Homo sapiens: one gene and its partners. The protein of the gene in region 2 interacts with the protein of the main gene of each other region in a pairwise test. Each region holds a gene or a part of one and is shown on either strand. Other genes may lie near its edges. The genes, in order: DNM1L, RRM2 and CCNF.

Region 1 (10,633 bases), on a different chromosome or scaffold from region 2:
CCATGTTGGCCAGGCTAGTCTTGAACTCCTGACCTCAGGTGATCTGCCCACCTCAGCCTTCCAAAGTGTTGGGATTACAGGTGTGAGCCACTGTGCCTGGCCGAATTTACTTTCTGTCTCTGAATTTGCCTATTGTAGATATTTCATATAAATTGAATCATTCAGTATTTGTCCTTTTGTGCTTGGCTTACTTCTGTTAGCATAATATTAGACTAGTACTTTTTGCCTGAGCTAGTATAAAAAAGTACTCAATAGTGATTGTAAAAATAGAGAGGAAGGGATGATTTGGGGAGGCATTATAAAGGTATTTGTAGAATTCAGATGGACTTGAATTTAAAAAAAGATAATACCAGGGTTTCTAGTTATTAAACAAGATAGGAAACATAAGGTGCTCAGTAACTATATCAAGAGATTTAATTTGTCTAAGGCTGGGCGTGGTGGCTCATGCCTGTAATCTCAGCACTTTGGGAGGCCGAGGTGGGCAGATCACGAGGTCAAGAGATCAAGACCATCCTGGCCAACGTGGTGAAACCCCGTCTCTACTAAAAATACAAAAATTAGGTGGGCATGGTGGCACATGCCTGTAGTCCCAGCTACTTGGGAGGCTGAGGCAGGAGAATCGCTTGAACCCAGGAGGCGGAGGTTGCAGTAAGCCAAGAGCGCACCACTGCACTCCAGCCTGGGCGACACAGCGAGACTCCGTCTCAAAAAGAAACAAAACAACAAAAAAAGAGAGATTTAATTTGTCTAAAGCAAGAGTAGGGCTGGGCACGGGTGGCTCACGCCTGTGATCCCAGCACTTTGGGAGGTCAAGGCGGGCGGATCACTTGAGGTCAGGAGTTTGAGACAAGCCTGGCTAACAAGCTATACTTATTTATTTACATATTGTCTATGGCTGCTTATGTGCTTAATGGTAGAGTTGAGTAGTTGCAGCAGAGACTGTATGGCCTGAAAAGCCTAAAATACTATGTGACCCTTTATGGAAAAAGTTTGCCAACCTCTACTTCAGATTGTGAATCAATGGAAATAAATATAAGGCACTGTTTCCTGTCCTCAAGGAAAACTAGGGCAGAGAAAAGGTGCTTAGCAATTCTTAGTTAACTGTTGATTTATGTCAGAACATTTATTATATTTACATATATATAATTTAATGATTCCTTTTCCCCTTTAAAAAAATTAGAGAAACTAGTTCATAATGAGCTGAGTTAGAACACATGGTAATGGGAATGAATGAAATTGTTTATCTGAGGCTTTCTCAGAAAATAAGATGAGCTTAAAGCTTCTAGAAAGACTTCTAACTTGTATCTTCTTTCCCTTTTTGCAATGCCAGAAACCATATACTTCATTGCCTTTCAGATGCGGTGGTGCTAGAATTTGTTATATTTTCCATGAGACTTTTGGGCGAACCTTAGAATCTGTTGATCCACTTGGTGGCCTTAACACTATTGACATTTTGACTGCCATTAGAAATGCTACTGTGAGTATGTTTAGCTTTTTAGACTGTAAAAAAAAATGAGGTTAAAGTTTTTCTTACCCATATACTGTGTCTTTTTAAATTTAATTATACAGTTTATTTTGCTCTCATATTTGAAATTAAAAAGCATTTTTCATGAAAAGTACCAAAAATGTGACTTTCTTAACCCTTGGGAAGAACTGAAATTACATATATAATAAGAGTTCTAAGTTTTATTTTCTCAGGGTCCTCGTCCTGCTTTATTTGTGCCTGAGGTTTCATTTGAGTTACTGGTGAAGCGGCAAATCAAACGTCTAGAAGAGCCCAGCCTCCGCTGTGTGGAACTGGTTCATGAGGAAATGCAAAGGATCATTCAGCACTGTAGCAATTACAGTACACAGGTAACGGAGAGAAATGTAACAGGTTTCACATGAACTAGAAAAGGACATGAAGTGGTGGTTTCACTGGGTGGAAGGAAATGTATAAGATGGGATACAAGGTAAAATCTGTAGTTCCCTTACCTGAAAGTGATTTGAAATAGGATTCTTAAATGTAGTCTCCAAATTGAATTCAGTATTTCTGTGATCATTAAGTAAAAGAAAATGACTGTTAGCCTGGCATGGTGGCTTCTACATGTAGTCTCAGCTACTTGGGAGGCTAAGGTGGGAGGATGGCTTAGTGAGACTATGACTTAAAAAAAAAACAAAAAACAAACACGTTTTTCTTTCATCTACCATTTGTAGGAATTGTTACGATTTCCTAAACTTCATGATGCCATAGTTGAAGTGGTGACTTGTCTTCTTCGTAAAAGGTTGCCTGTTACAAATGAAATGGTGAGCTACTATAGCATAGATCATTGTAATTACTATTAGTAAAAGTTTAAATTTTTGCTTGGCTGCTTTTTAATAAGCATTATATGGTTACTTTAGAGTGTAGGCATAATGTTTTCCAGTGTATTGGGAGGAAAAACAAGTTGAGTTTCAGTCTCATTTTAAAGGAAAATTTTTAATAATTCTGGTATAAAGTGCATTTTTTCTTCATATTTTAATCATTGTTAGCCTGCAGGCATGGGTTTTCTTGAAAATAGATTTATGATTGAGGGGTGTGAATAGCTTTGCTGTATTATTTAGTACCACTGATCTTAAGAGAAAATTAGTTCCATCTTTAGCCTCAGTAAACTGAGCATTTATAGCACACTGTTACTTTGAGGTACATCGGAGTAATCTGGCCACTTCTGCAGTTTGCTTGTTATGACCTAATAACTATAATATCGTAGTTGCTTGCTACTATTCTGTGGGTTGCTGCTATCCACACAAATAAAAATGCTGAAATTGGCAGAAATATGGGATAAGCATTTAAAATTGCCCTCATGCCTCTAATTGTTGGCTGGGTTTTTTGTTTTTTGTTTTCTTTCTGATCACTAAAAGTGCATTTGGGTCCTTGGCTCAGGATGGTGAACCCCGTGGAGGTTTACTAAGAGTACAAAACCATCCTTGGAATGTAAGTGCTGCTGCTTGGTTGTTTCTTTAGCAAGGATAGCCCTCAGATTCTGATGTCTAAGACTGAATTTAGCCCAGAATCATTGGACCTTCATTTTAATAGACCCTTTTTACCCAGTTCTGGACTGATAAGTGCTGTTCTGATACCTGAGATTTGTTAGGACAGCACATAATAAAGGGCTCAAGTTTATTCTCTCTGTAAGACTCAGTGGTGTGGTGGCTCACACCTGTAATCCCAACACTTTGGGAAGTCGAGGCGGGTGGATCACTTGAGGTCGGAAGTTTGAGACCAGCCTGACCAACATGGAGAAACCCCCTCTCTACTAAAAATACAAAATTAGCCGGGCGTGGTGGTGCATGCCTGTAATCCCAGCTACTGGGGAGGCTGAGGCAGGCAGGAGAATCACTTGAACCTGGGAGGTGGAGGCTGCGGTGAGCCGAGATCGCGCCATTGCACTCCAGCCTGGGCAATGAGAGCGAAACTCCGTCTCAAACAAACAAACAAACAAAAAGACTTAGCAATTCTGTAGAGGGCTGGATAAATTAATTTTAACTTTTCTTTTTTATTTTCCTCTTAGGATTTTGAACTACATATAATATTTTAACTAGGTGCTTTATAGTTAAGGCTAATCAGTCACTACCTCAGGTCCTTAGATGTATCCTTTACCCAAATAAGTTAACATCTTTAACTTATGCCTTGTTACGAACTTATTTTCTTATTGTTGAAAATGAACTAAAAAAGTGACAGGGAATAGTGGATGATCTGAAGTTTTAATAGCAAAGTTGCATAAAGTGTTGGAATTTAGATTTGCATTAGGTAGATGACTATTTTTCCCTAAGAGTAAAATACTTGTAGTTACTTTAATGTTATTTTTCCCTCTTAGAAATGCAGTTTTAGATGCTGAAATGTAAATAATTTTAAAGCTAGAGTAAATTATTGTTTGGCATAAGATTTATCAGTTGGAATATAATTATCAAGTAATTTAGGCATAAGTTTCCTGTACTTTTTCGGTATTGTCTGTTTCATAAGTTTTATATATAAATTTCTCAAAGTAAAATATGGTTGATGTATTTTTGTATATCGCCTAACTTACTTTTTTTCTAGGTCCATAACTTAGTGGCAATTGAACTGGCTTATATCAACACAAAACATCCAGACTTTGCTGATGCTTGTGGGCTAATGAACAATAATATAGAGGTAAATATAATTCTTAAATGCTTTTTCACAGGTAGAAAAATCTGTTGTAACTCAGTTATATCAAACTTATTTAGCATGGAGTAACTATAAAATAGACATGTGCCACATTAGTGCCTGCTGCATGTCAGGAAATATGCTGAGGGGATTACATTGTTTTCTTAATTCTCAAAACCACCTGCAGGCATTATTACTTTCTGCTTATGAAATTGAAATTCAGAAAGAATCTGAAAATTCATTGATTTGGTGTGACTGGCTCTATTTTGGTAACTTATAGTTTATACAGGGGAAGTGTGTACAACAAAGTATTTAAAATTCTTTTCATTTGGCTTTGAAAGCTGTGAAGGAAACACTCAAGAATTAACCAACTTAGCATAAATTTGGAAAAGCAGAGTGCTTTTTTCACCACTACTGGGGTGGCTGCATTTCATGGATCTTTTCTTTCCTTTTGATTTTAATGTAACAAATTGAATAAGATCTCAGATGGAGCCAAGGCTGGTGGACAGAGCAATTTATCCAGAAGCCATTTTTTTTCTCTGCCGCTTTTCTCCAAAAATAGTACATTTTTCTGCTACTCCCTAATTCAGTAAGACCTGAGTCCCCTGCTATACCAAATTTCCTCTTCTGCATATCCATGGTGAGAAAATTGTAAACATGCAATTCAGAAGCTGGAAGGGATCCTGTGTTATTGACTTCAACTCTGGTTAAAACAGATGGGGTGGCCAGACGTGGTGGCTCATGCCTGTAATCCCAGCAATTTGGGAGGTCAAGGCAGGTGGATCACCTGACATCAGGAGTTTGAGACCAGCCTGGCCAACATGGTGAAACCCCGTCTCTACTAAAAATACAAAAAATTAGCCGGGCTTGGTGGCAGGTGCCTGTAATCTGAGCTACTAGGGAGGCTGAGGCAGGAGAATCAACTTGAACCCAGGAGGTGGAGGTTGCAGTGAGCTGAGATCGCGCCATTGCACTCCAGCCTGGGCAACAAGGGCGAAACTCCATCTTAAAAAAAAACTGGGGAGCTTGAGGCTTACAGATAGCAGTTATTCCTTTGGTGCTTATTTTGCAGGGCACTATTATAGGAAGCAAGCACCTTCTTAACACAGGTATAGGGAACTAATTTTTGGTTACATAGCTGGGGGTGATTCCTGTTATCAGAAAAAATTCCAAAATGCATACATGAGTAGGCACTTCAAAACACTCAGAAAGTAGGCCAGATCACAGTTATGTTAAAAATTAGCATGTAGACACTTAAAGGATTTAGTTTTTTTTACATTGAAACTAACATCATGAAAAACTTGTGTTTGCGGTAGTTCTGTTACACTGACAAGGTCATATGTGATATGATTTCAGATTAGTATTTTTCTACAAATGAATAGGTTTCTGGTTTTAATGACTGTGCCAGAGAACTTTATGTGGATATTTTCATTTAATCTTTACCATACCCTGAGGGCAGATCATGTCATTAACAGATTAGGACACTAGGGCTTCAAAATAGTTGGTAAGCTGTCCAGTTAGCAAAGCAGGTACTCCACATCTGCTGGGGTCCAGGAGCAGCTCAGATCATAACTGGTTAGTAACAGACTAGGGTGAGAATTCTAGATACCGTGGCCTTTTGCTTTGTATCCCTGTTCAAAATGTACATTTTATCATGCTAATTTTTTATTTTGAAGATTGTTAATATCTATACTTTTATTATCTGTTATTTTTTATTACTGAATACCCGCCCATGAAAAAATAAAATTGGGTCAAATTTCTGTCAAAAAAAATTATTACACATGAAACATCACTGTGGGCTGTGTGCGGTGGCTCATGCCTGTAATCCCAGCACTTTGGTAGGCCGAGGCAGGCTGATCACCTGAGGTCAGGAGTTCAAGTCTAGCCTGGCCAACGTGGCAAAACTGTCTCTACTAAAAATAGAAAAATTAGCCGGGGGTGGTGGATGCCTGTAATCCCAGCTAGTAGGGAGGCTGCAGCAGGGAGAATCCATTGAATCCAGGAGGCGGAGGTTGCAGTGAGCCAAGATCACACCACTGCACTCCAGCCTGGGCGACAGAGCGAGACTCCATTTCAACAAAAAACAAAAACAAAATCATTGTGAGGCTTTAACTTATATTTTTTTGCAAGTTGGACTGTGTTCATGAAATACTTCCTACTTAGGAGCAATTGTGACTTTAACCTAAATAGTTTCTACTTTATCTGATGCTGCCTGTGAGAGATCCATCATTAATTAACATCTACAGATTTCTATATCTTCATAATCTTTTTTTTTTTTTTTTTTTTTTAAGACAGAGTCTCACTCTGTCGCCCAGGCTGGAGTGCAGTGGCATGAGCTCTGCTCACTGCAACCTCTGCCTCCTGGGTTCAAGCAGTTCTCCTGCCGCAGCCTCCTGAGTAGCTGGGATTACAGGTGTGCGGCACCATGCCTGGCTAATTTTTATATTTTTAGTAGAGACAGGGTTTCACCATTTTGGCCAGGCTGGTCTTGAACTGCCCTCAAGTGATCTGCCCACCTTGGCCTCCCAAAGTGCTGGGATTACAAGCATGAGGCACTGTGCCCGGCCAATATTTTCATAATCTTTTACCTATCTTGGTGCTTGGATATAGCAGATGCTCGGGACATTCTAATTTGAATTTGTCAGTTTCTTTAGCTTTGTACAAGTTACTTTGATAATATTAGCAAATTAGAACAGTAGGCAATTGATCAGTGTGTTAAATTAGCCAGGTTACAGAAAGGACTAGCAGTTGTCAACACTATTTCCTGGAGGAAGAAATGGAACATTTTTATAGGATAACCTCAACCACAGATACTTCTTCAAGATACGGTTTTATGAGGGGAGTTGTTTGAGTTTAACACAAAGGTGTTCAGGTTAGAGTGACTTTTAAAGGCTTTGCGGAGTTTTCTGTGATCTCTGGACTTCAAATTCCACATGGTTATGTTGAAGGCTTACCACGTTCCACATTTATGTGAGGACAGTTTACATCACTGTTTCTTAGTGGGAAAGGGGGAGAAGATGGCAGTCTGTTGCCCCTCATTTGAGAATCCCCAGTACAGGGAGCCACTGTTACTGACAGTGTATTGTATCCTTCAGGTGTGTGGGCAGAAAAAAAAAAGATTAAGAAGCTTTGGGTTAAATGATTTCTTATTTATTTTAAAATATGATAATTATGGCATGAGTCCCAACAGTGAGAGGATGTATCTGTAAGTTACTCCACACTTTTCAATTAACATGAACATTTTTTAGTAGGCATATATCTCAATACTTGGATAATCACTTTTGTTTTGCTTGTGTTTCTTAGGAACAAAGGAGAAACAGGCTAGCCAGAGAATTACCTTCAGCTGTATCACGAGACAAGGTAAAAAAATGTTTTTAATGCATATTCCCAATACCTAAAGATAGATTGATGAGCTCAGAATATTACTCAGTCCTAGGAGTAATTTTTTCTTCTTTTCCTCCCTTTAACACTCCATTGGAACTAACTGAGTAAAGGCATACAAGTTTAAAATGGGTTTTGAGTGATTTAAAGATAATAGTATTTTGAATTCACTGACATAAATGCTTAAAAGTAGATTTAAGCATTTATTTAAGCATTTAAGCATCAAGCTTTTTAAAAAAATTCAGTCAGTGACTTTATCAACTTTGCACATAGCTGAAATGACTCAAGATTTTATTATAATAAGAGGGTTTCTTGGAAAAAACAGTATGCACAGAACAGAGGTTTTAATTACTAGTAATAATTAAAATAGTTGTAATACTAAAGTGTGTATAAAAATCTTTTACCTTGAATTCTTTGCCAGAAAAGAATCTTATTAAATACCAAAAATAAAAATGAAGCTTTTGGATTTGGATTTTTCTTATGTATTCATCTGAAGGAAACTTTTAACAAAGGTGACAATGGTGAAGGAAATAAGGCAGAATAAACAATCTCCCATGATTATTTTCATCTTTCATGTTATTTTACGATTTCATTACAGAAGGGAAAAATTCATTTATAGAATGTTCCTGAATGCATTTTTGCATCCTTGATTTTTTTTCCCCCCTGGATTTTTTGCCTTTAGTCTTCTAAAGTTCCAAGTGCTTTGGCACCTGCCTCCCAGGAGCCCTCCCCCGCTGCTTCTGCTGAGGCTGATGGCAAGGTCTGTTCTGATTCTTAATCTAAGCCTGCATGCCTTGTTCTCTGGTACAACATAATCTTCTGGAAACAATACACTGAATAGAAGAATATTAATATGGGATACTGTGCTAAGGTCAGATCACTTTAGTCTAATATATATTTTAAAATTATATAACAATGCAATGCATAGTTTATATTGTTGACATGCTTTTGCTTGCAATATAGAAGATGCACACAGAAAAAGTAATTTAAAGAGGAAATTATCCTGCACTTTTTGAATTTCAACCCATTGGTATTTAAATTTTGCTTGTTAAATTGCATGTTTTAACATATCTTTTAACAGTTAATTCAGGACAGCAGAAGAGAAACTAAAAATGTGAGTCTCTTGCTTCAGAATGGAAATGTTGGTACCTTTGGTTCTCACTGAAACACTGTCTATACCACCATTAAAGAACCTGTTTGTGTAGTGGTATCTATCTCTTGTCTGTGTTATGTTCTTAATGTTCCTTTTATCTAACCTGTGGAAGATGGCATTAAACGTTGTTTTAATTAGTAACAATAATAGGCTTTCTCACTGTTTTGTTACCTTCAAGAATAGTTTTAAATTTAGTATTTTGGTAGGAAATTCAGAGATTTCCTAGATTTCAGAGATGGAATTGTATTTTTGGACATTTCCTTTCCTCTTTAAAGATCTTGAGATCTGTTCAGTACTAATAGATCTAATGCTTCTTTCTTATGCTTCCAGTTAGTTTGCACTTGTTACCCTATATATAGCTTCACATATGCTTCAGAAGCTTAAGCAAATTAAAAAAACAAATGGGGACTGTGAGAGTTTGAGACTGTTTTCAATTCTTGATAACCATTTTAGAGGAAAATTAAATAATGTATAAATTATTCAGACTCATCGCTATTTCAAGATTTTCTGCCATTTAGCTCCTTTCCTTAATTATCCAGATTTAAAGTTCTGAACTTCAAATAAAGGTTTATAAATGTCTTATCTTCTCTCAGCCCACTGTGCTCAGATATTAATCAAACCATCTAAATCACTGCACAAGTTTTATTTCATTCATGACGTCACACTGAATGTGCTCTCTCTCCTTAAGATTTCATTTGGTATGTCATTCATGTATAGTTAACAAACATTTAAAAATCTAATTACTCATTTTTAAGTTAATGTGTAACATAAATATACTACTTATATTTAAATGTAGTTCACCTTAACTGACATACTAAAGACAGATTTTAGCAAATATTTTGATTCAGAATGATACCTCAAACTACCATTTTTCTAACTGCCATAATCCTCTATTAAACTTATATAATCCATTTTTAGATTGTAAGATCTTAAAGAATACCTAAAAAAAACCCTCTTAAATGTTGATGAATTGTTTTTCCATTATAAAGTCATTTTTGACTTTTAGAAGTCAAGACTAATACATTTTCTAGAAAACAAGGTACAAAAGCACTTGTGATTAATGGTAGCACTAGATTTCTTTCAGCAAATCCTTAAGAGTACAGAGGTTGAGGGGACTTCTGTTGTTTGTCACATTCCGCATTTGAAACAACTCACAGTGACTGTCAGCCTAAGAATAGCAAATGTAGTCTTGCTTTTTGTTAAAGAGTTCTTACTTATACCTTATGGCATTTTTGTTGACTATTAGAAATGTAAATTGAGAAACATATAAACTCTTAAGTTCAGAGACGTAAGTTCATGGAACTTTTAGAGTTTAACAGTGTTAATGATTACTTAAGAAATTAAACTGAATAGCAGTTCTTTGTGCTTTTAACGAGTAGTTTTGTTTTTAAGGGCAGCATATACTTTTCCTACAATTTAGTGTTTGAAGGGTGGGAGAAGAGGAACGATTTTGAAAAGTTAGCGAATGATAAAGAAAAAAGGAATTAAATAGAACATAAGTTGGTTGATGCCTTGCAAACAACTTAGAGCAGAACTTCTTTATTATTTAGATAGGTCAGGGTTCCAGTTATACATGCTACCTAGTGTCTCCTTCTGACCTCATTATCTGTCTGAATAAACTTCAGATGGGTACTGGATGTATATTGACTACTGTCAAATAAAATGAACTTTGTTTTAGTTAAGGTCAGATATGATGTGGTTGGTATGTTTTGGAACATGTTTTTTCAGGTTGCATCTGGAGGTGGTGGGGTTGGAGATGGTGTTCAAGAACCAACCACAGGCAACTGGAGAGGAATGCTGAAAACTTCAAAAGCTGAAGAGTTATTAGCAGAAGAAAAATCAAAACCCATTCCAATTATGCCAGCCAGTCCACAAAAAGGTCATGCCGTGAACCTGCTAGATGTGGTAAGCCATGACAATTTGGTTTAGGTAATAAGGTAGGTGACCAAGTTAGT
Region 2 (9,809 bases):
TCCCGTGTCACTGGGGCCCCTAGCTTTATGCCACGGTTTTGGTCCCAACTCCTCCCCTGGTTTAGATTAACCTCTCCCTCCAAATCCAATTGCACGTCAGCCCCTGCCCATTTAATTTCTCTAAGGGACTAACAACCACTCGGAGAGCTGCTACAAGTTCCGGGGCCTCCATGGTCACTTTCTTTGTTCCCAAAAGAGGTCATTCTCCTTTCCCAGGAGGTGATCATCTATTTAACTTTTTTTTTTTTTTTTTTTTTTGAGATGGAGTTTCACTCTTGTCGCCCAGGCTGGAGTGCAATCTCAGCTCACTACAACCTCTGCCTCCCAGGTTCAAGTGATTCTCCTGCCTCAGCCTCCGGAGTAATGGGATTACAGACATGGGCCACCACACCCGGCTAAATTTTGTATTTTTAGTAGAGATGGGGTCTCACCATGTTGGCCAGGCTGGTCTCAAACTCCTGACCTCAGGTGATCCGCCCACCTCAGCCTCCCAAAGTGCTGGGATTACAGGCGCGAGCCACCATGCCCGGCCCACCTATTTAACTTTTTGCTGTGCTATTTATCATGGGCAGGTGTTTGAAGCAAGAGGAGTTCGGTTCCTTAGTCCACCACCTTGCTGGAGCCACTCCAGTCTCTAGAGCCAAGGCTAAGGTGAACATGACTACTGAACCTTAAGCAGCAATGGGTTCAGCTATTCTCATCATTAAAAAAAAAAAAAAAAAAAATCCTGATGTCATATTCCCTCCAGGGAATGGCAGGGAGACACCACTGATGTGTTCCCTTCTGTGTCCAGACAGACACCAGGAGGGTAGCCCCTCTATACTCAGGGACTGCTGGAAGAGGCCAGGCCACGCAGTCCAACTGCAGCCACTCACGGATGAGGGGCTGGGCCTGTGCCTGTCTTGCTAAGAGGAGTTAAACCATTATCAGGATCTCCAGACCGACACTGGCAGGGCCACTGATCCTCAAAATACAGCCAGTTAGCTCCCTGGCCAGGTGACAGAACACCCATCTGGTTCCTCCTTTGCATGACAAAGTCCTCAGGTCAGAGGCCACAGCAGTACCAGGTGAAGGGAGGTTTTGGTAGGTCTGCTTTTAGCAGCCAGGCCTGGCCACTGCAGCTGGGCAGGGCCCCGAATGTGCACACACAATGAAGTGTAACTCTTACACAGCATGTCTAGAACACACCAGAAAACACATCTGGAACATGCTGAAGCTCAGCAGGGCTGCCTTTTCCCCAAGTGAGATCCAGACTTTAGTAGCTTTTAAAAGCCCCCAGGTGATTATAATTCACACCCAGGACTGACGTCCACTGGTTTGAACTTTATGTCAGGAGTCTATCCCACCCGATCTCAAGTGTCTGAGATCTCCCATTAAGATTACAGGGTCCCTGGTTTACCCCCAGACTGATTCAGTAGGTCTGGGGGTGAGGCCGGGGAGGATGTATCTAATGAGTACCCAGGGCAATTGACTCAGCAGCCTGACCACTCAACTCTCTGCAGGCCCTCCTCGGGCAGCATGGGAGACATGTTCTATAGAGCATGGCAGCTGGCATGGGGCCGGGGGGAGCAGAACAGACTGCAGGCCACCCACAGGGAGGCTGTCCTAGTAGTTGGTCATCTTCTTGACGCCTGGCTGCCCCGAACTTGTGCAATAGGCCCAGCGCCAACCTGACATTACAAATCAAATGACCTTAACTGAACACTTTTAGGTGTAAAGGCAAAGCTCTCTACTAGGTTCCTCTGGGACACAGATCACACTTTTACCCAAGATACCATCCACCCCAAAATACTTCAGTTCCAATTAGTTTATTTCCCCATGTACCAGTCACTTAAATACCTGATCCTTGGAGGCCTTATGCTTATAAATATAAAGACAGATAAAAATCTGTGCCCTCAAAGACAACTTTCTCTTACAGAGCAGCACGGGAAGAAATCTTCATGAGAACACAGGAGTCGGAAGCAGCACAACCTCAGACACTAGTCCCAGTCCCCTCCACTAAGGAAACATCATCTCCCCCCATGAGACCTCTCCCAATCACTCCCATCCACCTTAGAATTCTCTGCTGCCCCCACCACTGCCCAACAATTCAGATCTACTCATCTATCAGTTTTCCTCTCTAGGAGTAAACCCAAGCTCCAGAGGGAGGGGCCTCCCCTCTGGCTTAGCGCCCCATCTTCCTGAATTAAAATGCAGGTAGAAAACGTCACCTGACAAGAGAGCTGCTGTTTGTTCAATGAACTGAATGGCAGTGGCGTGAGGTACAAGGAATGATTGGTTCGTTTGGGGATGGGTGTCATGAATTCTAAAAGGCTTTATCAAAGTGGGTGGGATTCCGAGTCAGGAAAGGGCCTTTATAGACACAGGGACCAATCCAAACCTGTGCTGGAGTCCACACAGGTCAGATGTGGGACAGCAGAGCAAAACTCCAGCTGGGAAGACCTCTAGCCCCACCTGTTTTGCAAACGGGAAAAGAGCCCCAGGAGTGGCTCCCCCACGGTTGAGAAGTTAACTCAGCCCCGGCTTCACAAACCCCACGTGCAGTATGGCAGTTAGTATTTTTGGGCACCACCTTTCGGGTGTACCTGTCTCCTATACACCTTGTGCCAATAGGCACAAGGCAAGTCTCTTGCCCAGAACCAGTGGAAAGCAAATGAATTCGTTAGCCTTTACAAAAAACACCTTTTTTTTTCAGACAGTCTCACTCTGCTGCCCAGGCTGGAGTGCAGCGGTGCAATCTCAGCTCACTGCAACCTCTGCCTCCCGGGTTCAAGTGATTCTCCTGCCTCAGCCTCACGAGTAGCTGGGATTACAGGCGTGTGCCACCATGCCAGGCTAATTTTTGTATTTTTAGTAGAGATGGGGTGTCACCATGTTGGCCAGGCTGATCTCGAACTCCTGAGCTCAGGTGATCTGCCTACCTTGGTCTCCCAAAGTGCTGGGATTACAGCCATGCCTGGCCAAAAAATATTTCTCTTCCTGAATTAAAATGCAAATTTTACCAATCAAGAAACTGACATAAGAACAGTTTTATTTTAATCACTTAAGACTTGTGCATTATTCAATTTTGAGACTGAAATACTTGTTTCCCTTTCAACTGATTAGGAAATGGTCTGAGCTGGCAGAAGTTAATCCTCACATTATTCAGCTAATGAGAGACAGAATCCTAAAACCTGATTCCAACTTCCGCCTGTACCTCACAATGCAAGACAAAGCCTTTCATTTTAATGTTGTACACATATAAGGACCATATAATCTGGATTAACTTTAGGTAACAATAACTTAAAAGATAGGAAAATGTATCATATTACAGAGATTTAAAAATTGTCTATACAATAAATGATGAAGAAAACTAACAATAAACAGGACGACGTTCAAATACTGAATACAATTAACAAATGGGGCCAAAAGATCAACATTTATCTCTCATCATCTTTCATGCAATGTCTCAGCTTTCTTCTCCCAAACATAAAGGCAGATTAATTCAAAGTAGCCCTATTAAGAATATTTGTTTATCACGCCTGCAATCCCAGCACTTTGGGAGGCCGAGGTGGGTGGATCACCTGAGGTCAGGAGTTCAAGACCAGCCTGACCAATATGGTGAAACTCCATCTCTACTAAAAATACAAAAATTAGCCAGGTGTGGTAGCACATACCTGCAGTCCCAGCTACTAGGGAGGCTGAGACAGGAGAATTGCTTGAACCCAGGAGATGGAGGTTACAGTGAGCCAAAATCGCGCCACTGCACTCCAGCCTGGGCAACAGAGCGAGACTCCATCTCAAAAAAAAAAAAAAAAATTATGTTTCATTCTGAAATTAATATTTGAATGGAAACTGTATTAACAGCTCATGGTTTCCTACTAAAGTTTAAGATCCCCCTAGACAATGCTCAGATTTAGACAATGCCAGAATAAGACACTGGGTGACTGAAGTATGAACTACAGGTAAAATCTAGAAGAACATAGATAATAAAAAATTTCTGATTTAACAGACATAGTAAATATAAATGAATTAACTCACACAACCTACTTACACCAAACAAAACTAGAATGAACAACTTGTAGGAACCACCTCTAGTTGATTTCACCACTTAACAGGGGCAAGATCTTAGGTGGATCATTTTGTTTAAGGATGACTTGAAATTTTACAATACTACCTTAGCTCCCACATATGAAAACTCTTCAAGAATTTTTTCTCATCAACCAGACGTTGAGGAAAATACAGTGAGAAATAAAATGAAACGGCTTCTCACACATATGAAGGCCCAGATCACCCCTAAATTTCTAGTGATTTAACTTAAGAAGCTCCTTGCCCTGAGAGATTCCTTTATCCCACAACACTCTACTCAGAGGGGGCAGAGAATCCCAGGACACTACACAAGCCACAGGATAAAAACACAACCTGTCTTCTATCTGGCACCAACTGACTAATATCTAGGTATACACAGGACTGACTTTAAAGTTGGTTAACAAATATTTTAATTCATTAAAATAAAACTTAAAAATTACATGCTTAGTCTACACAAGTTTAACTTACTTTAGTCACTTAGTGAATTGTGAATTGGCTCCCATTAGTGGTCAGGAGAATGTATTTGGTGTAGAAACCAAATAAATCAAGCTATTATCGCCTTGTGAGTACAAACAATGTTTATTTGTTTGTAAAGTGCCAGGTTTATATTTAAGTAAACATTAAAATCTGCGTTGAAGCAGTGAGGCTGCATCTTTTAACTGGCTGTGCTGGTTAAAGGACTGTTTAATCCCGCTGTGCTAAGCTCACTAAAGGGTCACCCCTCACTTTAAAGCCAAGACTGCCATTGTCACTGCTATGGTAAGTCACAGCCAGCCAGGCCTTCTGGCAAAAGGTGATACTACCAGCACTATAAACAGACAGGACTGGTTGTGAGGTAGCTACACAGTTTTAAAGATGCTGTTAATGAACATTACGGACAATTCATGGTGTGGCTAGTTGGTAACACTTCAGCTGATTTTTCTTATGAGATGGAAAAAAAAAATCAGCCAAGTAAGGGCACATCTTCAGTTCATTTAGAAGTCAGCATCCAAGGTAAAAGAATTCTCTGTTGGACTTGACATCACTCCCATCCTCTGATACTCGCCTACTCTCTTCTCAAAGAAGTTAGTCTTTCCTTCCAGTGAAATATTCTCCATAAAGTCAAATGGGTTCTCTACTCTGAAAACCTGAAAAGGTTCACATCAAGATATAAATACAGAGCACCAGCTTCAAAACAAGCAAAAGGCTATGTAAACAATACTTTACCTTGCTAAAACCCAGTTCCAGCATAAGTCTGTCTGCCACAAACTCAATGTATTGCTTCATTAGAGTGCAATTCATCCCAATGAGCTTCACAGGCAAGGCCTCAGTGAGGAACTCCTAGGAACCAAAATACAGCTTCTGAATACAACTAAAGCACAGGCATTTTCTAGCAAGCTTGAGTGACCCATTTCATCACCCACTTTACCTGTTCTATCCGAACAGCATTGATAATTATTTCTCTTACTCTCTCCTCCGATGGTTTGTGTACCAGGTGTTTGAACATCAGGCAAGCAAAATCACAGTGTAAACCCTAGAAAAAAAAGTTCAAGATCACTAAAGCCAGAAGACTTCTGTCATTAACATGGAATATGAAATTACTTTGTCCTTTTCTGCATTCTCCTTATCCAACATGCTCAGCCATACTGAGAGCACTTGAACTCTCAAAGGGAAGATGACTTCAACTACTGACTTCTCTGCTGATGTCACTACCAAGGCAAGCTCAGTCCCATTCAAGACCCTCAAAGTTGCCACCTAGATGAAGACAGGCAAGGTGTATTTCTTGCTCTGCTGTGTGTTGGCAAAGGAGGAGTCAGAGCTTCACTCAGTGATCTTTCTACAGCCATGAGTGCTAATTTTGCCACTACTCCCAGCAGGAAAGGCAAAGCTCAGTAATAAGGCTAGTTTTTAGATGCTCAGGAAATTTGTATGCAATTTCAAGTAAATCAAGTTTGCAAGTTACTGCATTAAACATCAAGCTTCACAGCTTATCTCCCAATCCAGTAAGGAAGGCCCTCCTACAAGGTAACCATATTTGATTTGCCCACTGGGCTCCAAGTAAGATGGAGTTCATGCTCCTGGCTTTTCAAATGTGACTTAATCAAAGACATACACTAGACCAAAATGTATACTCATTTCATTGAAATGCTTATTAATATTGAAGTAGAGGGGCAATTTCTAGATCAAACAGGAGAAACATAATGGCTACTATGAACATTCTTTTTCGGGGGGACTGTCACCCAGGCTGGAGTGCAGTGGTGTGATCTTGACTCACTGCAACCTCCACCTCCCAGGTTCAGGCGATTCTCCTACCTCAGCCTCTCAAGTAGCTGGGACAATAGGCACGTCCACCATACCCGGCTAATTTTTTGTATTTTTAGTAGAGATGGGGTTTCACCGTGTTAGCCAGGATGGTCTCAATCTCCTGACCTCATGATCCACCCGCCTCGGCCTACCAAAGTGCTGGGATTACAGGCATGAGCCACCGCTCCTGGCTCTACTATGAACATTTTTACGGAAAAAGGGATAACATATTAATACCAGGCAAAAATAATAAAACATCCCTTAAAATCCCAATCCCATCAATAACTTGTAGTTTTGGCTGGGCATGGTGGCTCATGCCTATAATCCCAGCACTCTGGGAGGCCGAGGCGGGTGGATCACCTGATCACCTGAGGTCAGGAGTTCAACCCCAGTCTGGCAAACATGGTGAAACCCCGTCTGTATAAAAAGACGAAAATTAGCTGGGCATGGTGGCAGGCACCTACAATCCCAGCTACTTGGGAGGCTGAGGCGGGAGAATCACTTGAACCTAGGAGGCAGAGGTTGCAGTGAGCCAAGATCACGCCATTGCACTCCAGCCTGGAACGACAGAGCAAGATTCCGTCACCTCAAAAAACAAAGAACTTGTAGTTTTATGCATTCAAAGCCTATAGGGGAATACATATGTACAAATGTATTACAATATATTGAGAATGCAAGTAAAACAGTTTCAGTAAATGAAAGTATTTCCTTCTTTTGTCAAGTATGTGTATGGTTGAACTCACACATTAAATGTGGATATATGCCATCTAGCATCTCAGGTCCCCGTCAGTGAACACAAGAGCATGCCCGAGTTGTGTTTGGGGTTTAGGTCACCCTATTATTTGACTTAGACTCACCTCATCTCTGCTAATAAGTTCATTAGAAAATGTGAGGCCAGGCATCAGTCCTCGTTTCTTGAGCCAGAATATCGACGCAAAAGAACCGGAAAAGAAAATGCCTTCCACTGCAGCAAAGGCTACAACACGTTCACCTATTTAGGAGTTAACACCAACATGATTCTAGTGAGTTGGTATTCAAGGGCCAAAAATCCAGTAACATTACTTGGAAAATGAAGCTCAGGTTTAAGTAGGGGCAAGGGTCTCCTTACCATAGGTAGCCTCTTTGTCCCCAATCCAGCGCAAGGCCCAGTCTGCCTTCTTCTTGACACAAGGCATCGTTTCAATGGCATTGAAGAGAAATTCCCTAGTAGGCACATACGGTATCAGCAATTGAAGCATTACAGTAAAAGACCTCCGATTACCAACTGCTAGATAAGAGCTCTGGGACAAAGGCCAAATTCAAGTATTTGCCAATCCTCTTCCTAAAGGAAGAACTCACACCGAAATGTTTTATTTTTACTGGTCAGTTTTTCCCTCCAGTGTTCTTTTAAAAACCTCAACACTTGATTTACATTAATACAAGTTTGGGTATTCTGTAGTTCATATTGAGCTTCAGGGTCTACAGACAGTAAAACATAGTCCAGTACAGCAGGGACATTTGTTGCCTTTAAAATTATTTCAAGTCCAGATCATTGTTCAATTTGAAGAATCATAGAATTTAAATTTGAAGAACCATAAAATCCTAACTGCTGTGCTATTATCAGACTATGATTAGGTGCATTATTTGGCCTCAGTTGCCACACCTATATCATAAAATAATTAAACCAATAAACTAAGATTGCTTCCTACTAGGACTCTGTGCTACACTGTCGATCCCAGGTCAGGAAAGCAAATCCATGGGTACTACAGTTAACTGGATCTCCCTTACCACCCTCCTCTGCCTCCCTTTATTCTGGTGCCCACCTTGAGAGGCTACTCATTTCCCAGACTGTTCCTACCCAGATGACTTTGTGTTCTGAAGCCAAGGGCACCAGACATTGGGCAGCTTTTTTTTTTTTTTTTTTTTTTTTTTTTTTAAAGAGATGAGGGTCTCACTCTGTTGCCCAGGCTAGAGTGCAGCGAGATGATCACAGCTCACGGTAAAACCAAACTCCAGGGCTCAAGCCATCCTTCTGCCTCAGCCTGCCAAGTAGCTGGGACTACTAGCTCAGACTACCATGCCCAGCTGTCGTTCATTCTTTCCATCTCACTGTCCCTCTCTCTGAGACCTGGGTCTGCCTCTCCCTTGTTTTTGAGGCTTCCCCAGCAGACCTTCCTGTTCCCCTTCTGGGCATTTGCCCCCGATCGTACCCCTAATCTTTGCCTTCTTTTCTCAATTTCCACCTATAAACATGTTCAAATCTCTTTACTCCCAATGTTTCCTCAGTCCTTTCAAGTTACCACTTTTCCTCTTCATGTACTTCAAAGTCTACAACGGCTACTTTAGGTTGCAGCTTCACCACTTCCACTCCATACAAGGTTCTGGTCCCCAAAGCTGACCTTTGTTTTTTTTGCTTGGTTTTGCTTTTTGAGACGGAGTCTTGCTCTGTCACCCAGGCTGGAGCGCAAGCTCCGCCTCCCGGGTTCACGCCATTCTCCTGTCTCAGCCTCCCAAGCAGCTGGGACTACAGGCGCCCGCCACCACTTTTTTTATTTTTAGTAGAGACGGGGTTTCACCGTGTTAGCCAGGATGGTCTCGATCTCCTGACCTCATTGTCCGCCCGCTTCAGCCTCCCAAAGTGCTGGGATTACAGGCGAGAACCACCGCGCGCCACCCTAAAGCTGACCTTTGTATCTAGACTACTCCAGCAGCCCATTTCTAATCCCCCCACCTCCAATCTCCAAAACAAAACAGACCTTAAGCTACCTTTATTCAGCCAAACTCCTGCATGCCTAAATCAGTCTCAGGGTTCACTGCTGCCTCTGCCTTATGTAACTCCTACTAAGTCTTATTTGCCTATACTATACTGCAGGCTTCTTAGGAGGCAAGTCCTCCCCGTCCATCCCACTGCAGCCCCACATTCTAGCTTCTCAACAACTTTACCAAATGAGCAAAGATGGTCAGACATAGGTTTTAGTTTGTCTTACCCAACATCTAGGAATTTTTTCAAAAGAAGGTTTTACATTGGTAGACATCCAACTTTAAAAGGAGTACCTTCACAACTCTAAGTGAATAATAAAGTGCATTTAGGCCCCTTGCTAAGAGCAGACATGACCACGGGTGCTGGGAATGCCTATGACTGTCTTAGTCATTCTGGAGTCATTTTTATCCCTAGGTGAACTAAAAATGTGTAATAAATCAACAATTAGTGAGTCCTAAAAATCTTGGCATACCACTTGAATACTCACCTTTCTTTGGGATCTTTTATGTAAGTGTCAATAAGAAGACTATACATTTCAGAATGTATGTTTTCCATGGCAATTTGGAAGCCATAGAAACAGCGGGCTTCTGTAATCTGAACTTCTTGGCTAAATCGCTCCACCTAGTGGCAAAACACATCAAAGTTAAGCTTGAGAAAAAACCAACAGCAGCAACTGTCAACGGATACTGGCAGCATCGCACTCTTTGTACCATTATAA
Region 3 (10,633 bases), on a different chromosome or scaffold from region 2:
CTTAAGCCCAGGAAGTTGAGGCTGCAGTGAGCTTTGATTACACCACTGCATTCCAACCTGGGTGACAGAGCAAGACACTGTCTCAAAAAATAATCATCATAATAATAACAAAGGGGAGGTCAGAAAGTGCTGGAAAGAGGGATGAGAGCCACAAGGCAGACAGAAAGCAGCAAGGCTGTTAGGCAGACTCACAAATGTCTGCAAAAGGCCCAAGTGCCCTGAGCATTCAGTTTGCTAAAAGACACCAAGGACAGAGATTTGCCTGTCACGTGACAGCTCTATCAGTGGGGTAGAAATGTTATAGACCCAGAAGGTGGGTGAGTCACCAGATCTAGGAATTGGAGGCAAAGGGCCCAAGGGTTGTTGGAAAGTCTGTGCCCGGCACTGTGTGGCCGCAGGAATCCTGACTGTCTCTAGGCGATGGTCACCCTGTTCTCTGTTGTCAACCAGCGCCAACTATCAGGGAACACGCTGCTCCAGCGGCCCCCCGCAAGGCACCTTCCCCTTGGACTGAGGCCAAGTCCCTTGGCTGCTCTGTCCTGGGGACTCTGCAGGTTGCATGCGTCATTCACTTGACCAAGAGGACAAGAGGCGCAGGGACTACACCTGCCAGCGTGGGGGCTGCAGACGCCAAAAAGACAAGATGTCAGTGGCCAATGAGAGCCCAGCGTGGGGTGTGAGATGGCTGGTGGGGGCAGGGCACCTCTGAGAGCAGAGGTGGGGGGCAGCTCAGCCTTTAAAATCTTTTTTTTTTTGAGACAGAGTTTCCCTCTGTCACCCAGGCTGGATTAGTGCAGTGGCGCTATCTCAGCTCACTGCAACCTCCGCCTCCCAGGTTCAAGTGATTCTCATGCCTCAGCCTCCCAAGTAGATGGGACTACAGGCGCCCACTACCACGTCTGGCTAATTTTGTTTGTATTTTTTTGAGACAGAGTCTTGCGCCATTGCCCAGGCTGCAGTGCAATGGTGTAATCTTGGCTCACTGCAACCTCTGCCTCTCGGGTTCAAGCAATTCTCCTGCCTCAGCCTCCTGAGTAGCTGGGATTACAGGCATGCACCACCACGCCCAGCTAATTTTTTGTATCTTTAGTAGAGACAGGGTTTCACCATGTTGGCCAGGCTGGTCTTGAACTCCTGACCTCACGATCCGCCCACATCAGCCTCCCAAAGTGCTGGGATTACAGGCGTGAGCCACCGTGCCTGGTCCCCGGATTTAAAAAAAAAAAAAAAAAAGATAATAAGGCAGAGTTGATTTGAGGGAGCTGTGGTGATAGTTATATGGACCACTGCAATCAGGTCTTGTGGTTGGGGAAGAAATTGGACTCAGCTCCCTGAAACGTTTTTAGCAGTTATTCTCTCACTGCCAGCCGGTTGTGGCCCAGGAGCTTTGTCGTAGGTTGCAGTGATGGATGTGCAGTCAGATCCAGGGAGGCGGCCGCCCGACCTCCTCAGTCGTCTCTGGTCGGAAGACCTGGGACGCTGGATTCAGGCCCAAGAGCGCATCTGAAGACAGCTCTGGATGCTTGTGGCAGGGTTTGCTCCCTCCTTCCATGGGAATGACACTGCATCGAGCTGGCACACACAGGCCCGAAGAGACTACACCTCCCAGTTCCCGTCTGGTGAGATGTGGTCACAAGACTAAGCTCAGTGCAAAGGTGAATGTGGCAGGTACAGGTGTCACAGGGACAAGGGCAGCACCCTAGTTGGTGGCAGAGATTAAGATGGGAGATGGGGCTCCTCTGCTTCCTCATGAAACAAAAAACATGCCAATGACCTGAGCCTGGAACCTCTGCCTCTGGGTTACCTGTGCAAGAAAGAAACAAGTCTCTGTAGCTTACACATATGCTGTGTGCAGCCAAGCCTATCCTCACCCACCAGGCTCTACAGAGGAGTCGGTCTGGAAAGCACTTCCTCGGGAAATGTAGACCATGCTGGGGACAGCTGGTTTAGGAAATGCAAATCGTATTGTGAGAATCATTTCCACGTTATTTCCAAAGGCGGAACTAGGGGATCCAGCATTAGTTAAAGGAAAGCAGTGGTCTGATTTGAAAAGGACAGGCTGCCGTGTAAGGACGCACGCTGCTGCTGAGAGACACCCACGTGGCTGGAGTGGGCTCTGCAGGGCACCAGTGGGGGACGAAAAACTCTCTAACTCCAAGAGTGTAGGAAACTCTGGCAACAGACTTTAGAACCCAACTTCAGAGAAGGGCAGCCAACTGCCACCCTCCCTGATCAGTCATCCTGCTGCCCTCAGGAGCCAGGGGACAGGGCAGTCCAGCCTGTGCCTGCCAGAGCGAGGCCACACTTTGGGTCCTGAGACTGCATGCCAGGATGAATTGCCTGGATGCAGGCACCCCACACAGCGGCCCCCACACGCTGAAGGCTGTTCTGCCACCCCTGCCTGCAAAAGGCCCTCAGCGTGGCACTCCATGTCTGACCAGGTGGGACACTCGTGGCTCATGAGTCAAGAACCAGTGAGGGCCAGGCGCAGTGGCTTGTGCCTGTAATCCCAGCATTTTGGGAGGTTGAGGCGGGCGGATCATTTGAAATCAAGAGTTTGAGACCAGCCTGACCAACATGATGAAACCCCGTCTCTACTAAAAATACAAAAAAATTAGTCGGGCATGGTGGCGCACGCCTGCAGTCCCAGCTACTCTGGAGGCTGAGGCAGAAGAATCACTTGAACCTGGGAGGCAGAGGTTGCGGTGAGCCAAGATCGCACCACTGCACTCCAGCCTGGGTGACAGAGCGAGACTTGGTCTCGGGAAAAAAAAAAAAACAACACAAAACAAAACCAAACCAGTGAGGAGCACATGAAGGGCAGGTGACCCTGAACCCGGGAAAGGCCAGCACGTCCCTGCCAGCTGGGCCAAGGGGGCTTCTCACCGGGTGCAGATGACCATGCAGGCGATGCCCAGCAGCTGGAGCCTGTACCGCGGCACCAGCCTCCTCCGCAGGTACCGGTCCACACACTCCACGGTCAGGTGCAGGCACAGGCTTGTGAAGTCCTTCATGGTGGCAACTTCCACCAGCCAGTCGATCAGAATGTACCTGCGGAAAGAGAAGCACGTGGGAACTGGTGGGGGCGTTCTCCATGTGTCCCTGTCTGCGATTTCAACCCCACCTGTTGGGCCCGACCAAATAAGCTGGCTAGCTCTGGAATCATGGGTTTACCCTGGAACCAAGGCTGGAGAGGCCATGTCACAGGAAGCCCGGGAGGCTCCGTGGGTCCCAGCCCCAAAGCAGGCCCCACATCCTTCGACTGTGTTCCTGGTGCTCCCAAACACAAGCGCTTTGAGACCTCGACCTGACGCAAAGTGAAAAGTCAGCCCACAGCCGTTGGTCTGCCCACAGTGGATGAACCCTGACCCTCGGGGCGTGCAGGGAGCGGGAGAAGGTGGACAGTCGCAAGGGAATGCCCCAATACGGTAAATGATGCCCCAATATGGTAAATGCCTTTCTGAATAGAGTGGAGACACTTGTAGTCCTACTTGGGGGACTGAGGCAGGAGAAAGGCTTGAGCCCGAGGCAGAGGTTACAGCAAGCCGAGAACACACCACTGCACTCCACCCTGGGTGACAGACAGCCTGCCTCAAAAAAAAAAAAAAGATGTTCAATGTGTTCTGTGGCTTAAAAAAGATCACTGCACTGTGGGAGGCTGGGGCAGGAGGTTCGCTTGAGCCCAGGAGTTCAAGACTAGCCTGGGCAACATAGTGATACCCTGTCTCTACTAAAAATACAACAATTAGCTGTGCATGGTGGTGTGCATCTGTAGTCCCAGCTACTCAGGAGGGTAAGGTGGGAGGATCTCTTGAGCTTGGGAGGCGGAGGCTGCAGTGAGCTGAAATCATGCCACTGCACTCTGGCCTGGGTGACAGAGCCAGACCCTGTCTCAAAAAAAAAAAAGGTGGCTGGGCGTGGTGGCTCACGCCTGTAATCCCAGCACTTTGGGAGGCGGAGGCAGGCGGATCACGAGGTCAGGAGATTGAGACCATCCTGGCTAATACGATGAAACCCCATCTCTACTAAAAATACAAAAAAATTAGCTGGGCGTGGTGGCAGGCACCTGTAGTCCCAGCTCCTGAGGAGGCTGAGGCAGGAGAATGGTGTGAACCCGGGAGGTGGAGCTTGCAGTGAGCCGAGATCACGCCACTGCACTCCAGCCTGGGTGACAGAGCAAGACTCCGTCTCAAAAAAAAAAAAAAAAGTAACTGAAGAAAGCAGAGTAGGATATTTTCTTCCAAAAAGTCCACGATAACTTTGGCATTACTGGTTTTAAAAAACACCCAAGGCTGGGCGCGGTGGCTCACGCCTGTAATCCCAGCACTTTGGGAGGCCAAAGCGGGCGGATCACGAGGTCAGGAGATTGAGACCATCCTGGCTAACATGGTGAAACCCCATCTCTACTAAAAATACAAAAAATTAGCCGGGCATGGTGGTGGGTGCCTGTAGTCCCAGCTACTCGGGAGGCTGAGGCAGGAGAATTGCTCGAACCCAGGAGGCGGAGCTTGCAGTGAGCTGAGATCGCGCCACTGCACTCCAGCCTGGGCGACAGAGCGAGACTCCACTTCAAAAAAAAAAAAAGGGTGATAAGGGAACTCTATGCCGCCCTGTCACAGGTAACTGGGGTTAAGTGGAAAGGGCTCCCTTCCCCTGGAGGCTGGCTTCCGCGCCGCTCTGATTAGAAGCCCCGGCCTGAATGCCTCACCTCATTGTGTCATTGAGTCCCTTCTGCACGGAGAAGACTTGTTGTTTACTGACAGCCTGGGAAGCCTGAAATAGCTGGCAGACGATCTCACTGGAAGCTCTCACCTCCAGTCCAAGCTGGTTTGCATTTGCACAGGCTTTGGCTAAAGACAGCTGAGGAAGAAAAGACAAACATGAGCGTGAGACAGCAGCCATGTTGCAGTTTTCCATTTCTGAAGCAAAGGCCCATTCAGGCACCAAATGCATGTGGACACACTGCCCTACTTAACTTAAACCTTCACAAGCTTCGGGAACAAGGATGGCTCAGGTTTTAATTATTATTCCTTTTTGTATAAGTAATAGATGACATGAGAAAAGATATATAATGAAATGTCAGTGGCCTTTCCACCGTGGCTCAGGTCTCAGTTTCTTACATGGCTAATGCCTGGGGAAGCTGTGTTAAGTCTCTGGCCATACGCCCCAGTGCTCTCCGAAAGGCTTCTGCCAATGTTTACACCCAGGAATAGGAGCACCTGCCTCATCACAGCTTCATCCCAGCAAACACTGTGATTATTAAAAACAGCTATTTTCAGAAGTTACCAGCTAGCCACCCAAAAACAGAGAAATATATATATATTATATATTATATATATATTATATATAATATATATTATATACAATATAAAACATATAATATATAATATGTAATATATTATATATAAAAATATCTATTATATATAATATATCTATAATATATATTATAGATATTATAACATAATATTATATTATATATTATAGAACATATAATATAATTATATAATATATAATTAACATAAATAATATATAATATATAAATATATAAAAATATATAATATAATAATATATAATAATCATATATATTAATATATATTTATATATTATATAATATATAATATATAATTATAATATAATATATATAATATAATATATATTATATATAATAGAATATAATATTACATATATTATAGAATATATTATATATTATAGAATATAATATATAATATTATATATGATATATATTATATTATTATAATTATTATATAATTATATGTTATACAATATATAAATACATATTTATATATAATTATTATATAATAATATGATATTATATATAATATTATATATTATATATAATAATATTATATTATATAATATTATATATTATATATAATATTATATTATATAATATTATATATTATATATAATAATATTATATTATATAATATTATATATTATATATAATAATATTATATTATATAATATTATATATTATATATAATAATATTATATTATATAATATTATATATTATATATAATAATATTATATTATATAATATTATATATTATATATAATAATATTATATTATATAATATTATATATTATAAATAGCTGGCAGACTAAATATAATTATGTTATAATATAATAATAGATATTATAAATATATCTAATTATGGATATTATATATATATAATTAAGGGCTGGGTGCGGTGGCTCAAGCCTGTAATCCCAGCACTTTAGGAGGCCGAGGCGGGCAGATCACGAAGTCAGGAGATCCAGACCATCCTGGCTAACATGGTGAAACCCTGTCTCTACTAAAAATACAAAAAATTTAGCTGGGCGTGGTGGTGCAATGCCTGTAGTCCCAGCTACTTGGGAGGCTGAGGCAGGAGAATGGCATGAACCCAGGAGGCGGAGCTTGTGGTGAGCCGAGATTGTGCCACTGCGCTCCAGCCTGGGCAACAGAGCAAGACTCCATCAAAAACAAAACAAAACAAAACAAAACAAAACAAAAACAAAAACATATATATATATATATATATATATATATATATATATATATATATAATTTGCTAATATCATGAGCCCAAAATATCTCATTTAAAAGTGCACTCTTATGACTAGTAGTAAGGTTGAACATTCCAATTTCTAACCACTTGAGTTTATTTATTTATTATTAATTTTTTTTGGCCAGGTGCAGTGGCTCACTCCTGTAATCCCAACACTTTGGGAGGCCGAGGAGGGCAGATTACTTGAGGTCAGGAGTTTTAGACCAGCCTGGCCAACATGGTGAAACCCCACCTCTACTAAAAATACAAAAATTAGCTGGGCGTGGTGGCAGGCACCTATAGTCCCAGCTACTCAGAAGGCTTGAACCCAGGCGTCAGAGGTTGCAGTGAGCTGAGATCGCACCACTGTGCTCTAGCCTGGGCAACAGAGAGAACTCCTGGCTTCAAGTGATCCTCCCGCCTCAGCCTCCCAAAGTGTTGGGATTATAAATGTGAGCCACTGCGCCCGGCCCTATTTCCTCTTTTGTGAGAATTGACTGAGGCCCCTTGAACTTCCACGAGAACTACGTTGTTGCATTTCTTGTAAACAATGTTTTTGTTGAGATAGGGTCTCCCTCTGTAGCCCAGGCTGAAGTGCAATGTTGCGATCACGGCTCTCTGCAGCTTTGACCTCGCAGGCTCAAGTGATCCTCCTGCCTCAGCCTCCTGAGTAGCTGCACTACAAGGCACACGCCACCACATCCAGCTAATTTTTTTTTTTTTTGAGATGGAGTATCGCTCTGTTGCCAGGCTGGAGTGCAGTGGCACAATCTCGGCTCACTGCAACTTCCTCCTCCTGGGTTCAAGCAATTCTCCTGCCTCAGCCTCCCGCGTAGCTGGGACTCTAGGCACATGCCACCAGGCCCAGCTAATTTTTTTGTATTTTTAGTAAAGACGGGGTTTCACCACATTGGCCAGGGTGGTCTCGACCTCTTGACCTCGTGATCCGCCCGCCTCAGCCTCCCAAAGTGCTGGCATTACAGGCATGAGCCACTTGCACCCAGCCCATCCAGCTAATTTTAAAATTTTTTGTCGAGATGGAGTCTCACTATGTTGCCAGAGCTGGTCTTGAACTCCTGGGCTCAAGCGATCCTCCCAACTCAACCTCCTACAGCGCTGGGATTGCAGGCGTGAGCCATCACGTCTGGCCTTCTTGTAAATCTGTAGACTGGCTTTTTGGACGTGAACACCACAATGTGCTATGACACCTCGGGCTGGGCCATTATCAATTTGTAATTTTGTCCCTAGCATTTGAGCGCAGATCACTCTGCCACCCACTTGGTGGGGTGACAAGAACAAGCTTCTATCCATTTGGCAAATAGGAGCTTTCTTTGATTCGTCCTGACAACTTTTTTTTTCCTTCAGACAGAGTCTTGCTCTGTCGCCCAGGCTGGAGTGTAGTGGTACTGCAACCTCTGCCTCCCGGGTTCAAGCGATTCTCCTGCCTCAACTTCCTGAGTATCAGGTGCCTGCCACCACGCCCAGCTAATTTTTGTATTTTTAGTAGCGATGGTTTCACCATGTTGGCCAGGCTGGTCTCGAACTCCTGACCTCAGGTCATCCGCCCACCTTGGCCTCCCAGAGTGCTGGGATTTCAGGCGTGAGCCACCGCACCTGGCCCTAACAACTTATTTATAGCTGTGAGGGGAGAGTCTACCAATGCTTGATTTCCTGCCTGTAGCCCTGGATGACTTGGTGACCAGGTGACATGACAAGCAAGGCGCTAACAGGAAGAGGAAGCAGGAAGGGACTCTCCACGCCCCTCTGCTCTCAAGTAGCCTCAAGTTTTGTTGTCAAGATCAGTTCTACCTATGGGACAACTTTCAAGAATGGCACAAATTTTGACAGCAGCTATAGCTCACAAGCATTTGAAAATTAAGAGGTTGGCTGGCTGAGAGGCAAGAGTGGATAGGCAGAGATGAATAACGCATTTCCCAGCTCTTCTCACAGTGTACCTGTCCTTTAGGACCAGTTCCAGTGCTGAACCGATCTTAGGGTGTCCCTCAATCCTGGCCTCCCATGTGGGAGCCCAGATAGTCCTGCCCCCCAATGTGGGAGCCCAGATAGTCCTGCCCCAAGGCTGGAGGGAGAAAGGCCAGCTCCCCACGTCATCCCAGCCCCGCACCTCACCTGCGCTTCCCAGCAGCCTTTGGCAGCGTAGTCCCTGAGTTTTCGGAAGCTGTGGAGGCATCGCCCAGGATCTGACACCTGTCAATGGGAGATCACCGAGCCTTTGTACAACTGTGTCTTGGGAGGAACTCAGAACCAAGACCCAGAAGGGCCGACACTACGCTAACTTCCCACCTCTTCTCTCTCAAATGGTGGAGTCATTTTTGGGGGTACCAAGAATAGCCGACTGACCAGTGGTTCCCGGAGGCTGAGAGACCGGGAGCAGCAAGAGCCACCTCCCTTTTGTGGACAGAAACGCATCCAAGGACCAGCATCAACTACGCCTTTGTCCAGCATAACTCCCCCCGACCCAGAGCAGGCACCACTCACATCTGTCCTCCTGTCGCTTTCCCAGAGGAGGTAGGAGCTGGTCAGACATCCCTGATGAGCAGCCTCCTCAAACAGGTCATGGGCCTGCTGCTGCTTCTCCTCATCCTAGAATAAATCCCAGCAGAGTTCATTGTTCCCTTATTCTTTTTCATTTTTATTTTTTGAGACAGTTTCACTCGTCGCCCAGGTTGGAGTGCAATGGCGCCATCCTGGCTCACTGCAACCTCCGCCTCCTGGGTTCAACCAATTCTCCTGCCTCAGCCTCCTGAGTAGCTGGGATTACAGGAGCCCACCATCATGCCCGGCTAATTTTTGTATTTTTAGTAGAGACGGGGTTTCACCATGTTGGCCAGGCTGGTCTCAAAATCCTGGCCTCAGGTGATCCACCCACCTCAGTCTCCCAAAGTGCTGGGATTACAGGCATGAGCCACTGTGCCTGGCTGGTTTTTTTGTTGTTGTTGAGGCAGAGTCTCCCTCTGTCACCCAGGCCAAAGTATAGTGGCACGATCTTGGCTAACTAAAACCTCAGCTTCCCGGGTTCAAGCAACTCTCATGCCTCAGCCTCCCAAGTAGCTAGGATTACAGGTGCCCACCACCATGCCCGGCTAATTTTTGTGTTTTTTAGTAAAGACGTGGTTTCAACACATTGGCCAGGTTGGTCTCAAACTCCTGACCTCAGGTGATCCACCCGCCTCGGCCTCCCAAGGTGCTGGGATTACAGGAATGAGCCACCATGACCGGCCCTTATTCTTTACTTGATGTTCAATCACTCTACTCACCATCTTCCTCCTTTTCCATACTTTTTTTTTTTTTTTCTGAGACTGAGTCTCACTCTGTTGCCAGGCTGGAGTGCAGTGGTGCAATCTCGGCTCACTGCAACCTCCGCTTCCCAGGTTCAAGCAATTCTCCCTGCCTCAGCCTCCTGAGTAGCTGGGATTATGGGCACCCGCCACCACGCCCAGCTAATTTTTGTGTTTTTTAGTAAAGACGTGGTTTCACCATTTTGGCCAGGCAGAGAGGTCCACACGAGCAGGAGAGGCCCACGAGGAGCAGGGCCAGCAGACGAGTGAGCATCGAGGTTCGATGCCTCCTTGAGATCTGCTCTGCTGTTCTCACCGTCCCCCACTCCCCTGCCAGGCGGGTCATGGAGCCAGGATCGGAGCCCGTGGCCAGGCCCACATGTGTCCCCTGGCTTCTCCAGCTAGGCCTTTCTGGGCAAGGCTTGCCTTTTGTTTTGGGCCTTGGACACCCCCTTCTGCTGCTTTTCAGTTCCAGGATCTCGGCTAGGGATGTATCGAACACAAAGTCCCAGTGCAGAGAACAACTTGACTCACCTCGAACAGACTCAGCACTCTGCCCAAGCAGTGCAATATGGATGCTTTGTGAGTCTTTAAAAAAAGGAGAAAGAAGTGTGATTTCCAGCACAGAGAACTGCCCGGGGGCCACCACTCCCTTGTCTGTCTTTGGGTCCCATGCCCATGGCCCTGCTGTCTGGCCCTCCCTCCCCTGCAGAGGGCCACTCCCAGATTTCAGTCTTTTTTTTTTTTTTTTTTTAAAGGGAAACAGGGTCTTGCTCTGTCAC

Evidence for each region.
Region 1: the proteins of RRM2 (region 2) and DNM1L interact in a two-hybrid assay, tested with the Homo sapiens proteins (one study listed by BioGRID and IntAct).
Region 3: the proteins of RRM2 (region 2) and CCNF interact in binary tests that used the Homo sapiens proteins (3 or more experiments, as listed by UniProt).

What each region holds. Positions count from the first base shown.
Region 1 is NC_000012.12:32,729,658-32,740,290, forward strand, and holds part of DNM1L (dynamin-1-like protein), read left to right. Parts: intron 1-1,356; coding exon 1,357-1,477; intron 1,478-1,698; coding exon 1,699-1,854; intron 1,855-2,196; coding exon 2,197-2,286; intron 2,287-4,057; coding exon 4,058-4,150; intron 4,151-7,447; coding exon 7,448-7,504; intron 7,505-8,207; coding exon 8,208-8,285; intron 8,286-8,606; coding exon 8,607-8,639; intron 8,640-10,406; coding exon 10,407-10,583; intron 10,584-10,633. UniProt on the Homo sapiens protein: Functions in mitochondrial and peroxisomal division.
Region 2 is NC_000002.12:10,124,620-10,134,428, reverse strand, and holds the end of RRM2 (ribonucleoside-diphosphate reductase subunit M2), read right to left. Parts: intron 9,713-9,809; coding exon 9,579-9,712; intron 7,555-9,578; coding exon 7,460-7,554; intron 7,343-7,459; coding exon 7,209-7,342; intron 5,582-7,208; coding exon 5,477-5,581; intron 5,389-5,476; coding exon 5,275-5,388; intron 5,196-5,274; coding exon 5,043-5,195; 3' UTR 3,015-5,042; downstream 1-3,014. UniProt on the Homo sapiens protein: Provides the precursors necessary for DNA synthesis. Catalyzes the biosynthesis of deoxyribonucleotides from the corresponding ribonucleotides. Inhibits Wnt signaling.
Region 3 is NC_000016.10:2,437,876-2,448,508, reverse strand, and holds part of CCNF (cyclin-F), read right to left. Parts: intron 10,440-10,633; coding exon 10,386-10,439; intron 9,157-10,385; coding exon 9,052-9,156; intron 8,761-9,051; coding exon 8,683-8,760; intron 4,861-8,682; coding exon 4,709-4,860; intron 3,118-4,708; exon of another isoform or gene 3,052-3,117; coding exon 2,887-3,051; intron 1-2,886. UniProt on the Homo sapiens protein: Substrate recognition component of a SCF (SKP1-CUL1-F-box protein) E3 ubiquitin-protein ligase complex which mediates the ubiquitination and subsequent proteasomal degradation of target proteins.